Regions from separate parts of the Homo sapiens genome. Here regions 1, 2 and 3 are each reported to be linked to region 4. Evidence: microRNA targets listed by miRTarBase, many of them from high-throughput screens and not tested one by one. Region 4 holds a microRNA gene; each other region holds the end of a gene's coding sequence.

What was found. The annotated mature microRNA hsa-miR-664b-3p reads UUCAUUUGCCUCCCAGCCUACA and lies in region 4 at 1,431-1,452, shown strand. An mRNA with a match to its seed (bases 2 to 7 or 8) in the 3' UTR can be bound and repressed. Matches are read on the target gene's strand: a 7mer-m8 pairs with bases 2 to 8, a 7mer-A1 pairs with bases 2 to 7 and ends in A, and an 8mer does both.
Region 1: miRTarBase lists ARFGEF2 as a target of hsa-miR-664b-3p. Seed matches in the 3' UTR shown: 7mer-A1 at 1,200-1,206.
Region 2: miRTarBase lists TMEM72 as a target of hsa-miR-664b-3p. Seed matches in the 3' UTR shown: 7mer-A1 at 1,304-1,310 and 7mer-m8 at 1,836-1,842.
Region 3: the mRNA of MPZL3 is a reported target of hsa-miR-664b-3p. Seed matches in the 3' UTR shown: 7mer-A1 at 2,504-2,510.

What each region holds. Positions count from the first base shown.
Region 1 is chr20:49,032,858-49,035,944 of GRCh38, forward strand. It overlaps ARFGEF2 (ARF guanine nucleotide exchange factor 2), which reads left to right. Exons shown (of 39, transcript NM_006420.3): 39 at 166-3,087. The coding sequence ends at 342. Among named protein-coding and RNA genes, the nearest start is that of CSE1L-DT, 12 kb to the right of the region's middle.
Region 2 is chr10:44,934,714-44,937,787 of GRCh38, forward strand. It overlaps TMEM72 (transmembrane protein 72), which reads left to right. Exons shown (of 5, transcript NM_001123376.3): 5 at 1-2,297. The coding sequence ends at 421. The region is part of intron 1 of TMEM72-AS1 (TMEM72 antisense RNA 1); the gene reads right to left. Among named protein-coding and RNA genes, the nearest start is that of TMEM72-AS1, 23 kb to the right of the region's middle. RefSeq lists an enhancer at 868-1,162.
Region 3 is chr11:118,226,998-118,230,087 of GRCh38, forward strand. It overlaps MPZL3 (myelin protein zero like 3), which reads right to left. Exons shown (of 6, transcript NM_198275.3): 6 at 1-2,923. The coding sequence ends at 2,897. Among named protein-coding and RNA genes, the nearest start is that of JAML, 3.5 kb to the left of the region's middle.
Region 4 is chrX:154,767,205-154,770,294 of GRCh38, forward strand. It overlaps MIR664B (microRNA 664b), which reads left to right and starts at 1,392; the gene lies at 1,392-1,452. DKC1 (dyskerin pseudouridine synthase 1) reads left to right here. Exons shown (of 15, transcript NM_001363.5): 7 at 52-178; 8 at 1,098-1,228; 9 at 1,963-2,106. It overlaps SNORA36A (small nucleolar RNA, H/ACA box 36A), which reads left to right and starts at 1,324; the gene lies at 1,324-1,455.

The sequences.
Region 1 (3,087 bases), not on the chromosome of region 4:
GCTGGGATTATAGGCGTGAATCACTGCGCTCGGCCCCAACTTTCTAATAGCAAGAAAAGCACCAATATTGTAATAAGTTCCAGGGTGAGATTAACACTTCTGAAAAACTGGTGCCCAAAAAAAAAAAAAATTGTCTAATTTTATCTGTTTCTCTCCCACCTCAAGTTCAAAGCACATGCTTCAATGTACTACCCCTACTTGTGTGAAATTATGCAGTTTGACCTGATCCCTGAGCTCCGAGCAGTTCTGCGGAAGTTCTTCCTACGGATAGGTGTTGTGTATAAGATATGGATACCAGAAGAGCCATCACAGGTACCAGCAGCACTGTCACCAGTGTGGTAGCCCTGGCTGCCCAGGCCAGTGCTGCAGCTCTGCAGAATGTTCAGCATGCCATTTCTGACTGGCACATCTCGTGAAGTTTCATAGAAACAAGGAGTTGGCATCTTGGATCTCAGAATGGCCTGGAAACGGATGGCCTCTACGCTGTTCCATCACAGTCTCCAACTAAGGCTTATGGTATTTCATTAAACTGTTGCATACCCAGTTAGCACAGTAGGTGGGGAGTCTGCTTCATTTCTATCATTCCATTTTTCTGATTAAACTGTCAAATCTGTCATTGCATATGCCATCGTTTTCTAGCAAAATCCCATGATTGGCTATAAACGTTTTGTAAGAAGTCACTCTCCTTGAAAATACTGAACATAGCTGTATAGGTTTGTGATTATTAGAGAATATGTTAATAAAACTTCTTGTAACGGCTAACTGCCACCTAAAATATGCTGGGTTTTCTGTTGTTTGAGTGTGTTAGAGAAATTTGAATGTTTTTGTCAGTTACGAGTCAGCCGTAATTAGATTAGTTTAAGGACAGGTCAGGATTAGAGAAGAGTTGTTTTTGTGTTTTGTTAATGTCTGAGTGATTTTTAAAGTATTTTACAAAAAGATATTGAAAATTTGGTTGAAGGCAGAGTTTAGTAATTAAGTTAGAATTAAGAGTTTTGCGAGGTTAAAAAAATGTGCCTCGTGGATCTCCCTGTTTTAGTAACATGGAGAGAAAAAGTCTACACGAAAAAGTGAACAATTTAATGAAGATGATTAGCCTTCCTTGAAATAAGTATTTGTGGATGGGTGTTAAATTAAAATTTCCAGAATACACTGTCCATCTCACACACTCTGAAATCTAATATATGAAGTAGTAATGAAAATGAAGTAGTAATTTAACCAGAGTTCATTTATCCTTGAATAAACCTTTTTATTTTCACCTCAGAAAAGTGAGTGTACTGGCAGTTAGTGTCACTGCTTTGCACAGTCCCCATTAAAGGACCCTCCAGAGAGGGACAGTAACTGTGCATGAGAAGCCGCTCCCATAAGCCTCCTCAGCCAGATGTCATGGGTGGAACTGGAGCTGTGTCGGGGCCAGCACAGCTGAACTGTGACAATGGCAGGAGGTGGCATGTGCCCAGCACTTCCATTAATCTGAGCCTAGGAGTTGAATTCTTTGGCAAGGTTGGATTCTGAGGTCCTTATTATGTTAATGATGGTGCAATACTCTCACCTGCAGTAGAACTGAGTTCTGCTGCAGCTTGTGTAAAAGTGGGCAGTACACAAGTACGTCCCAAAGCCTGTGAGCAGTATACGTGGATGCTCACCCATGAGAAGGAGCACACACGCCTCATTCTCTGCCCTCACCCACTGCTCACCTAGAGCATCGCTGAGCGTTAGACAAAGTGTTACACAGAATGATTAAAACTTTCAGACTTCTACCTATGCTCTTTAGTCCTGTAAATTGGGTTGTATTGATGTCAACTCTGGTGCCTTAGAAGTTAGTAGTTTGGGAACCTATCTGTAAAATCAGATGTTTTTTCTTTGTAGAGAAGGATTTCTGGTGCTTTTGCTTACTAAGAGACCGATATTCTTAAGTTGTTTTCTTGTTTTAACAGCCTTGAGAAATGTTTGGTTTTGGCCAGCAGAATTCTTGTCTACTTTTTTCTTTCCCAAAAAGTGTTTTTTAATTTCTCTACCAAAGAAAAAATGAGCAGGTTTAGGTTTTTACATGACTTATATACATTAGATAAAAGGAGCTGTATAATTTAGCAGGAAGGGACTATGGGAGAATACTTTACTGTGAGTGGAAAATGTTAGCACATTTGACTGGTTTGCCCTGGAATCCACTGCACCTTTACACTGCACCATGAAACCTACACTCCCTGGTATCATAGCGCGTCATCACCTCAACAAGTCAGTCGTCTCCATTGATATTTGTACAAAAGGTATACATGGGGAACACGTGTTCATTCATTAAGTCCATCTTGCGTGCAGCTATATCCCTGATTGGTTATTTTTCCTTTCCTTCTGAGGTTCTCATGTCATTTTCTTCATCGGATGTGACTAAAATTTTTCTGGTGTCTTCTGCCCTCTCTTTAATTTTGCCTCTTGAGGGGTAGCAGATGTGTCAGTGCATTTTATTACTTGCTGAAACATTCAGGCTTACATTTCTTATTAGTTTAGTATTTTAAAAGATTTAATTTTCTGAATGAGGCATTTGAATTGTACCAGCAATGGACTTTTAAAAAATTGGATGTAAAACCATTCAGGGTGATTTTTCTTGTCAGTGGACAGTGACGAACAGAGATTTGAAATCCCTTACCTCCAATAATAAGCCATTCAGCCTAAATTCATTTTTATGAATAAATCTCTTCTTTCTCATGGTAAATGTGGCTTGTGCCACTCAAACACTAGTGAAAGGGTATGTACAACCGCAACATCAGGCCAGGACACCATTTATTTAACCAAGTAATGGAGGAGAGTGAAACATTTTCCAAGGCCTTATTTCTTTTTCAGAATGCTTTAAGTGTTGATTATATGTGCTGGGTCTCTAGAGAAGTTTTTATTTGTTACAATACTGCTGCTTTGAGCAATTTTGTTTCTCTTCATTGTCTGTTAGGGAAATCACCAGCTTTGGCATCTTAACAACAAACAGTGGATGGGTAATTTTTATTTCTGATACGCATCTTTAGAGTCAAATATATCTTTTCCCTGTACTCCTCATGTACAACCAAAGAACATACATTATGAAAATTGTATTATAAT
Region 2 (3,074 bases), not on the chromosome of region 4:
GAAAGCTGCCCCCGAGGTGCTGGCCTCCCCAGAGCAGTACACAGACCCCTCTAGCAGCGCTGTGAGCACCACCGGCTCTGGGGACACAGAGCAAACCTACACTTTCCATGGGGCCCTCAAGGAGGGGCCCAGCTCCCTTTTCATCCACATGAAGAGTATCCTGAAGGGGACTAAGAAGCCCAGTGCCCTCCAGCCCCCCAACACCCTGATGGAGCTGAGCCTGGAGCCAGCCGACTCCCTGGCCAAGAAGAAGCAGGTGCACTTTGAAGACAACTTGGTCCGCATAGTCCCCTCCCTCGCCGAAGGTCTGGATGATGGGGACAGTGAGCCAGAGGAGACCACCTCTGACACGACACCCATCATTCCCCCTCCCCAGGCCCCACTCTTCCTGTCATCTCTTACAGCCACCGGCCTGTTCTGAGCGCTTGCTCCAGCCTGGAGGACGCTCAGTGAGGGGTCTACCTAGCTCAATGGCCCTCCCTGGAGTTTCAGGGTCTTCTCTGGTCAGCTTTTCAAGGGGTAACCAGACACCCCCACACTGGCTGGGCCCCTGAGGCCATCAGGAGGTGTGACTGGCCAGCATTTCTGGAGAGGCCTCGAGGGAGGCACAAACAAGGCTCACGCCACCTCAAGCCAGCACAAGCTCCTTCCTCCTGGCCACAGGTGGGGAAACCCTTATGCTTCCCCAACAAGACCATCACTGCCACTGCGCACGAGGCTGCAGGTGCCATTGACTCAGCCCAGAAGGGACAGAGGATGTCTGCCCAGCAAAAGCCTCTGGGCTTTTCTTACTCCCAACCCAGGGCACAACACTCAGTGAGGAACCTATGGTCCACCCATCTCTGCAGGCCCAGGGAAGTGTCAGTAACTTAAGCATCTCTAAGGCAGAGAAGGTGGCTGTGGGTCTTGACCAACCAAGACTGCTCAGGGTCGGGAGGGGAGGCTGCAGGCCTCTGGTGGGAGCAGCCGGGCCGTGGGCCACATTCTCTGCATGCTCTAGGGCTGGGGCTGAGCTGCTCAGGAAAACAATGCCGCTCTGTGCTCACTGTGGGAAAGCCAGGCCAGATGAGCAAAGCTCATTCCAGAAACATGGCTGGGGACTTCCAGCCTCCTTACCACATGGCCTTTCCAAGATTCCAGGTTGATGATGCAAACTGAACGCAGTGAATGCCAGGGCCCAGAAGGCAATGTCTGCTGTGGGCAGGACCACAGAGGCTGCCCAGGGGTGGCACAGCACAGAGAAGTGTCAGTGCCGTGTTTAGGCACTTGGTAGCAGAATAGGTGATAAATATAAATGTCTTCAAAATGAAAGGAAGTGAGGGGGGAAGAAGAGGAGGGAAAATGGGAGGATAGGAGGAAGTGGGCAGGCAGGCAAGTTCTCTGCCATGGGGCCACGGAAGTGACAGTTAACCCAGAAGGAACAAAGACATCTGAATCAGATATTCCTTTGTAAATCTGTAAAGGATTTGCAATATAGGCTTTACTTCTAAAAATTGTTGTCGGGTCCATGAGGCTGTTGCCAGGAAGAGCACACACACCATTCTTCATGGCAACTGCAGTGAGGGAGCAGTCAGGAGGAAGAGTCCTGTGGCTTCTCAGTCCCTGTGGAGGCTAACGCAAAGCTCTGTAGAACAAGCCTTAGAGTGCATGCTCTATGGTCTAATGAGAAACTTGTGTTTGTGCTTGCACACGTTTCAATGTTCCCTACAGGATATTTTACAAAGGTATGAAAATAATGGCCAACCAGAAGCTAGTATCAGTTTGGGGCCTAAATGCAGCAGGTGTTCCTGATAAGCAGATAAGCAGAGCTCTTCCTGCAGTAGCCCAGGTCTCACCAAATGACAAATGGCTAATCAAGACACTCCTGCAAGCCCTTGATGGTGAGAGCTGCAGAGCTGTTTCTTCAGCTGCCATCAAGGCAGGACCTCAGGACCTGACTGTCTACAGTCAGGGAATAGTGAACAATATGGGATATGGGTATAGGTAGGTGGTAGACAAGGATCGTGCCCCATGGCTGATGGGCCGGGTGTCTCAGGCAGGCCCCCTGTGCACAGAAAGAGCCTAAGTGCAGAGAAGCCAGGCATCTTTCCCCTGTCAACTGTGGAAGGGGAATGTGATGGCCACAGACACCCTCATGGCACAGACATGGCCAGCCTCTGACGTTCCTCTGCATCAGAGTAGTTCTGTCCTCGAAGCCCCAGTCAGCAGAGCTGGATGACCAGATCGCAAGAAGCAAACCAGAAAGTGTGATGGCAGAGATGTCAGATCCCGTTTAATAAACACTTCAGTAAACCCAAGTGTGGAGTGTTGTTTTGGGTGTGTTTTAGAGATGTGTGTTGGGAGCACCCTTTTGGAGGTGTCTTAGTGTGTGCCGGGAGTTCCAGTGATGATGCGATGGAATTCTGAGGCACATAGGCTTCCTGGAGATTGTCATCAGTTAAGAGAGTGTCTGCTGGTGTGCAGCATTACAGGACAATTATGATCTTACCTAGGTTAGTAAAGTTCTCAAACACTCTTATGGCTACAAAACAAAAACAAAAAGCTGGAGTGAGATCATTAAATAGGCCAGAATTCTCACCCATCAGTGGACCAAGCAAGAAAGTGGCATCTTCCTCATAAGCAGATGAGCACCACGTGTCTCCATTGATTCTCAGCCTGTGACCTCTATGACCACATCCTTGTCCAGAAGAATCCCTGCAAAGCAGATGTTGTAATGATCTGCATCCTTGCCAAGAAGCAAAGACTAGAAGGACTGGCCCTGCCATGATCCCCCTCCCTACCTCAGCAGAGAGGGGAGCATTTTGTATATGAAGAACAGAGTGACAGGAAGAAGAAAGAGCACCAGGCTGAGCACCATTCGACCTCCACTAATACACGTCTGACCTTGTTCAAGCCCCTTCGCATCTCTGGCTCAGGTTCCCCTATTAAGTGCAAATCACAGCAGTAACTCAACAAGACATGGGCAAGTGCTTTTCAGAACTACAAACAAGTCACTGTGATTGCACTACATCCCTATCCCTACGGGGGACTCGCCGTGAGGGGGCACTGAGGAAGCACCACCCTGACTTGCGTCT
Region 3 (3,090 bases), not on the chromosome of region 4:
TGGCCTCCAGAAGTGTCGTTTTGTTTTGTTTTGAACAAAGACGTGCTACCTTCTCTCTTGAAGCACCAGTGCTGGGTTCAGGAGCTACAGAGGACTAAGATGTTCCCCAAGTAGCCTGAAGTAACAGGTCACATGGAAAACACAAAGCAATTGGTGAGTCCACATTTTGTAATAGAATTAAGAGCGTAATGCATAAAACTTAAAGTCATGTAACCACATGTAAAAACTTCAGCAGCTAAAGAAAAATTCTGGAAGGCTTTTAACCCCTTCTGAACTAAGTTCCCTTTCTAAACGAGGCTGGTTTCCATGGCTGTGACAAGAGCTCATGAGGTAGCAAAAAGAGAGAGAGAATAGCACCTTAGAAGTTACTCAAACAAGAGGTGAAACAAATAAGTAAACAAAAAAAGACCACTTTATCTTCCTTTCATCCTTAAAGAAGGCAGGTGTCTGTACACTGCTTTGTGATCCTTCGAAGAATAAAAAGCTGTAACCCAAATCTCAGTATAAGGGATGAAGAAGGAAAATGATAGCAGCTGATGACTGGGATGCGACCACAAACCCATATAGTAAACTAAGTTATCAACGTACTCCCTTACCACGAAGGACTTCATTCAGTCATTTAAAAAGCAAGGGACTAGTTCAAATCATGATTAAGGCTATAAAAGAACACGACTGAGTATTCACAGAGCACCAATTACCTCAAGTTTAGACTAGGTGTCAATCTACAAACATACTACCCTGCATTAATCTTCACAACACACCTGCGAGGACATTACAAGAAGGCCCAGCCAAAATTAGTTCCTCATTTAATGGGATATGGCTTTCAGTGGGTTCCTGTAACACCATCTCTTTCTTGGAGAAATGAGGACCTGCAAAATAGTCCCCCTCACAATGAGATCTCTATCTTCAAATCTCTGAGAGCCCAAGTTATTTACTCTCATTGCTCAAGTTGCTTTCCTCTCTCTGTTGAGGTGTCAGAAATGGTCACGTTAGATTGGCCTCAGACAACCACAAAAGTTAACAAGCAGTCCCAAAGTACCGTGAGGTTTAACCACTGGAAATGTAAACTGCCGGTCCTGTCTTTGCCCTTCTACTTCCTCGCGTGACCAGAGTCAAATCACAATGTCCTTCAACTAACCAGATTCGCTCATCTGTGGACTAGGTTAACAGAAGAGGCTAGGCCAAATCTATGATACGGATCTAACAACCCAAATTTTTTAAATTAAGTCTTCAAAAAAAAAAGAAAGAAGTTGAGAGAGAGAAAAGTGATTTTTAAACTAACATATACAGTCTGAAGCGCTGTAATATGGAAACTTCCTGAACCACCTAATGAAAAATCATGAAAAGGGATCAACCTGTTGAAAGAATAGAGACAGGTGAGGGGATAATTTTTGTCTCTCATAATTGAGAAGTAAATCCAATCACTATTACAGAAGACTATTTATATATGCACCATCCATCTTTACTGATATACTATACATATGCCTTAATGGCTTATAAAAAATCCTATGTAAATTAACATTTGAAACAAGTTGTCATAGCAGAATGGAGTAACCTGCTGTAAGGCACTGAGAGAATACAAAGGAGAAGTATGTCATGCACAATCTCACTTCCTCATCTCAAATATTATGTAAAAACCACTTGCAAATACCATAGTTTACTCACAGTTGGCACATTTTAGAAATCAACAAAGTTTTGAAAAACAATACAAGTGAAAAGATGATTTAATTTGCAAAGAACTCCTGAAATACTCCATAAGCCCCCCACTAAAAACCTGTAAAGAGTTTTTCTTGCCTCTGACCTGAAAATTCAAGAAGAAAAGTTGTAGTTATAAGAAAATAAAATAACAGGCCAAGCACAGTGGCTCATGCCTGTAATCCCAACACTTTGGGAGGCCGAGGCAGGTGGATCACGAGGTCAGGGGATTGAGACCATCCTGGCCAAAATGGTGAAACCCCGTCTCTACTAAAAACACAAAAATTAGCTGGGTGTGGTGGCGCATGCCTGTAATCCCAGCTACTCGAGAGGCTGAGGCACAAGAATCGCTTGAACCCAGGAGGCAGAGGTTGCAGTGAGCCAAGATCACACCACTGCACTCCAGCCTGGCGACAGAGTGAGACTCTGCCTCAAAAAAAAAAAAAAAAAAAAAAAAGCAAGACAGAAAATAACAAAGACTCCTTAGCCCAAATTGTACCAGCAAGACTAAAGAAAATAATTTTTCTACTTCACGATTCCTTTCCTTAACTGTAAATTGATGACACTGTACTTAATACTTTAAAAACCCAGTCAAAGCAAACCAATGACTTGATCCTACCAACTCTAAGGAAACTAAGGGTATACACCCTAAGTTATCCAAACACAACTGAGGTTGAGGTCATTAAACCGGTAAGTATACGCCCTATACTAACTCACAGCTGAAAGTGTACATGGAGCAAAAAACAAAGAATACATATCCCAAGCGAATATTTTGTCTGGTGACACATCAGGAAGCCACAAGCTCCACTTCATTTAAAAAATTATTTGGGTATCAGCGGTGTGGCAAACATTCAAAATTCTCCTTCAAACAGTTGGAAGAAAACATGTAATACATTCCAGAGCAAAGATGAATCAAAAAGTATCTTTTTGCTCAGGAAAAGAATTTCTTCATTCAATTACAGCATAATTCATTGAAAGGGGAAGTCATGAGTCTCTTATGAGAGTTCCTGAACAGTTTATAAATACAACAAGAACATTTATTCAATAAATAAGTGGTTCCTAAAGTCTTTACTGATGATCTCCAGGATTGTCCATCGCTATGGTCCAGGCCAGCTCCACTTTCTCTGACAGGCTTTAGCTGCCAGTGGAATGGGATGTTTCCTGTCTTTAGGTGACTCTTCTTGTGTCATACAGACTTTCATCAATATGTCTCTTCATAGTCTGAATCCTGGAGGGAGCAAAACAGCAGGTGTGAAACACAATTCCAGAGTTGGAATTTAGGCAAAGACCACATGTTAGGATCCTCCAAATGGAACCTGGCTTGGGGAGACAGCCACAGTGAAATGCCACTGACTCAATACACCTAAATTCCCACGGAGCTTCACAGGACCTCAA
Region 4 (3,090 bases):
GCACATGTACATTCTGATGAGGTGTTTGTTTTCATTTGTGTTTGTTCTTAGGCCCTAGAAACTCTGACAGGTGCCTTATTCCAGCGACCCCCACTTATTGCTGCAGTAAAGAGGCAGCTCCGAGTGAGGACCATCTACGAGAGCAAAATGATTGAATACGATCCTGAAAGAAGATTAGGTGAGTCATTAGGCCTGTGAGTGGGTATGAACACATTCTTCAGGATTCTGTTCTCTTATTAAAAGTAGATGCCCTTGAAGTTGAAGACTTTCTAAAACCTGCCCTACAGCTGGGATATTGTCTGTGGGCGATAGTTTTTGTTATCTTTTGTTGAAAAAGTGAACAGTGCCTAGTAAAGTGAGATGGCTTTTACACCTTTTATGATGACTGCTTCTGCTGGAGTTGAAATGTTTTCATTCTGCATTTGTGTAGTTCGGTGCTTTGTTCAAAGGTAAGTGTTTTCACCAAAGTATGTTTTGCATGTGTTTTTTATTTGTTGCAATTTTGACTGCTTAGAAGTTTCTGTTGTCAGAAGTAAATTTAAGACAATGCCAATTTTCCTCCCATCCATGAAACATACCATGCTGAATATACCTGCAACTTAAGTGTTAAAAATTCTGCTAATATCAGAATTACAGATCTTTTTTTTTTTTTTTTTTTTTTTTTGAGACGGAGTCTCGCTCTGTCGCCCAGGCTGGAGTGCGGTGGCATGATCTCGGCTCACTGCAAACTCTGTCTCCCGGGTTCACACCATTTTCCTGCCTCAGCCTCCCAAGTAGCTGGGACTATAGGCGCCCGCCATCATGCCCGGCTAATTTTTTGTACATTTAGTAGAGACGGGGTTTCACCATGTTAGCCAGGATGGTCTTGATCTCCTGACGTCGTGATCCACCCGCCTCTGCCTCCCAAAGTGCTGGAATTACAGGCGTGAGCCACCGTGCCTGGCCAGAATTACAGATCTTTACAGCAAATGCTTATATTTTAAGAAGTGTGTCTGTCACCTCTAGTCTTGGTGGCTCAGATGAAGGATAACTGCATTTCTCAACCAGTGATGTATTTACAGTAGGTGCTGCTTTTCTTTTGTGTGTGTGTATCTTAGGAATCTTTTGGGTGAGTTGTGAGGCTGGCACCTACATTCGGACATTATGTGTGCACCTTGGTTTGTTATTGGGAGTTGGTGGTCAGATGCAGGAGCTTCGGAGGGTTCGTTCTGGAGTCATGAGTGAAAAGGTATGTGTTACGGGGCTAGAAGTTTTAGAGCTGGTTCTTACCATCTGCCAGCCTTTGATGGCACTCCACTTGCTTCATGTCGTGGGAAAGATGCTTTCCAAAGTGTTGAGTTCAGTCCAGGGCAGCTTCCCTGTTCTGTTAATTAAACTTTGGGACATTAAAATGGGCTAAGGGAGATGATTGGGTAGAAAGTATTATTCTATTCATTTGCCTCCCAGCCTACAAAAATGCCTGCTTGGGGTCTAATACTTCAACGGTTAAAGATGCCTGGAAGAGGGCGCGGTGGCTCACGCCTGTAATCCCAGCACTTTGGGAGGCCGAGGCGGGTGGATCATGAGGTCAGGAGATCGAGACCATCCTGGCTAACAAGGTGAAACCCCGTCTCTACTAAAAATACAAAAAAAATTAGCCGGGCGCGGTGGCGGGCGCCTGTAGTCCCAGCTACTCGGGAGGCTGAGGCAGGAGAATGGCGTGAACCCGGGAAGCGGAGCTTGCAGTGAGCCGAGATTGCGCCACTGCAGTCCGCAGTCCCACCTGGGCGACAGAGCGAGACTCCGTCTCAAAAAAAAAAAAAAAAAAAAAAAAAAGATGCCTGGAAGAGCCAGGACTGAAGAGGCTGAAGACATAATGAGCTTGGACTAGTAAACAAGTGACATTCAGTTTTAGGAAGTTTGGGGTCTGATGGGCTGAGATACAAATAAACTGAATTATTTTCATACATGGCTGCTTTTCAGGACCACATGGTGACAATGCATGATGTGCTTGATGCTCAGTGGCTGTATGATAACCACAAGGATGAGAGTTACCTGCGGCGAGTTGTTTACCCTTTGGAAAAGCTGTTGACATCTCATAAACGGCTGGTTATGAAAGACAGTGCAGTAAGTTCCGGGTTAGGAGTTTATATTTGGAAAGAACGTACTCCAAAGATGAGGCTTGCTCTTTTTATTGTTTTCCTTGGGTTTTATTTTATTTTTTTCAAGTCCAAACCAAGTATATTAATTTAAAGTAAAAGTTTAATGGTAGGCATACTTAAAAATAAGGCACATTAGGCCAGGCACAGTGGCTGATGCCTATAATCCTAGCACTTTGGCAGGCTGAGGCAAGAGGATCACTTGAGTCCAGGAAGGAGTTTGAGACCAGCTTGAGCCCAGGAGATCAAGGCTGTGAGCTGTGTTTTTATGATGATCAGAGAGTTGGCCTTTTATAAATTAAAACATTGTCTTTTTCTCTAACTTGAGGGATAAAAATTTCTGGATATTTAAAATGTTTGTAGTTGGTAATTATTTATATTCAAATCTTGTATAGATGTTCACATTTTTTGTATGTGTATAGGCTGTAATAAATACTGAAAGATGGCACCATAATAGTTGAAAAAACTCAGTCACAAAACAGTGGACAACATAAATGTGATGTCCTCTCCTTATCAAACCATTGGCTTCTGGGTGAATGTAAAGGGAGGGGAGAATGTGATCAAAAGAGGTCTAGGTGAGTGGAGATGGTATGAGGCAGATGGGTGCATTGGGTACCATTGAACCTCTGGAGAGGTAGCCTTAACTTGTACCCACTGACCTATAAATTCTGCACCAAGACTTTTGTGTGATTGGTTCAACAGGGCTCAGTAATCTTGTTTTCAAGTTCTTTAAGAGCCTGTTATTGCCTGGATCTCCAGTAAATCTGTTCTTTCTCCTCATAAGGAGGAGAGAGGAGTAATTAAGGAATGCCAAGGCTATTTTTATGTTTCAAATGAAAATATGGACCACGTGCGGTGGCTCACACCCATAATCCCAGCACTTTGGGAGGCCGGGCCAGGCAAATTGCTTGAGCTCAGGAGTTTGAGACCAGCCTGGGCAATATGGTGAAAC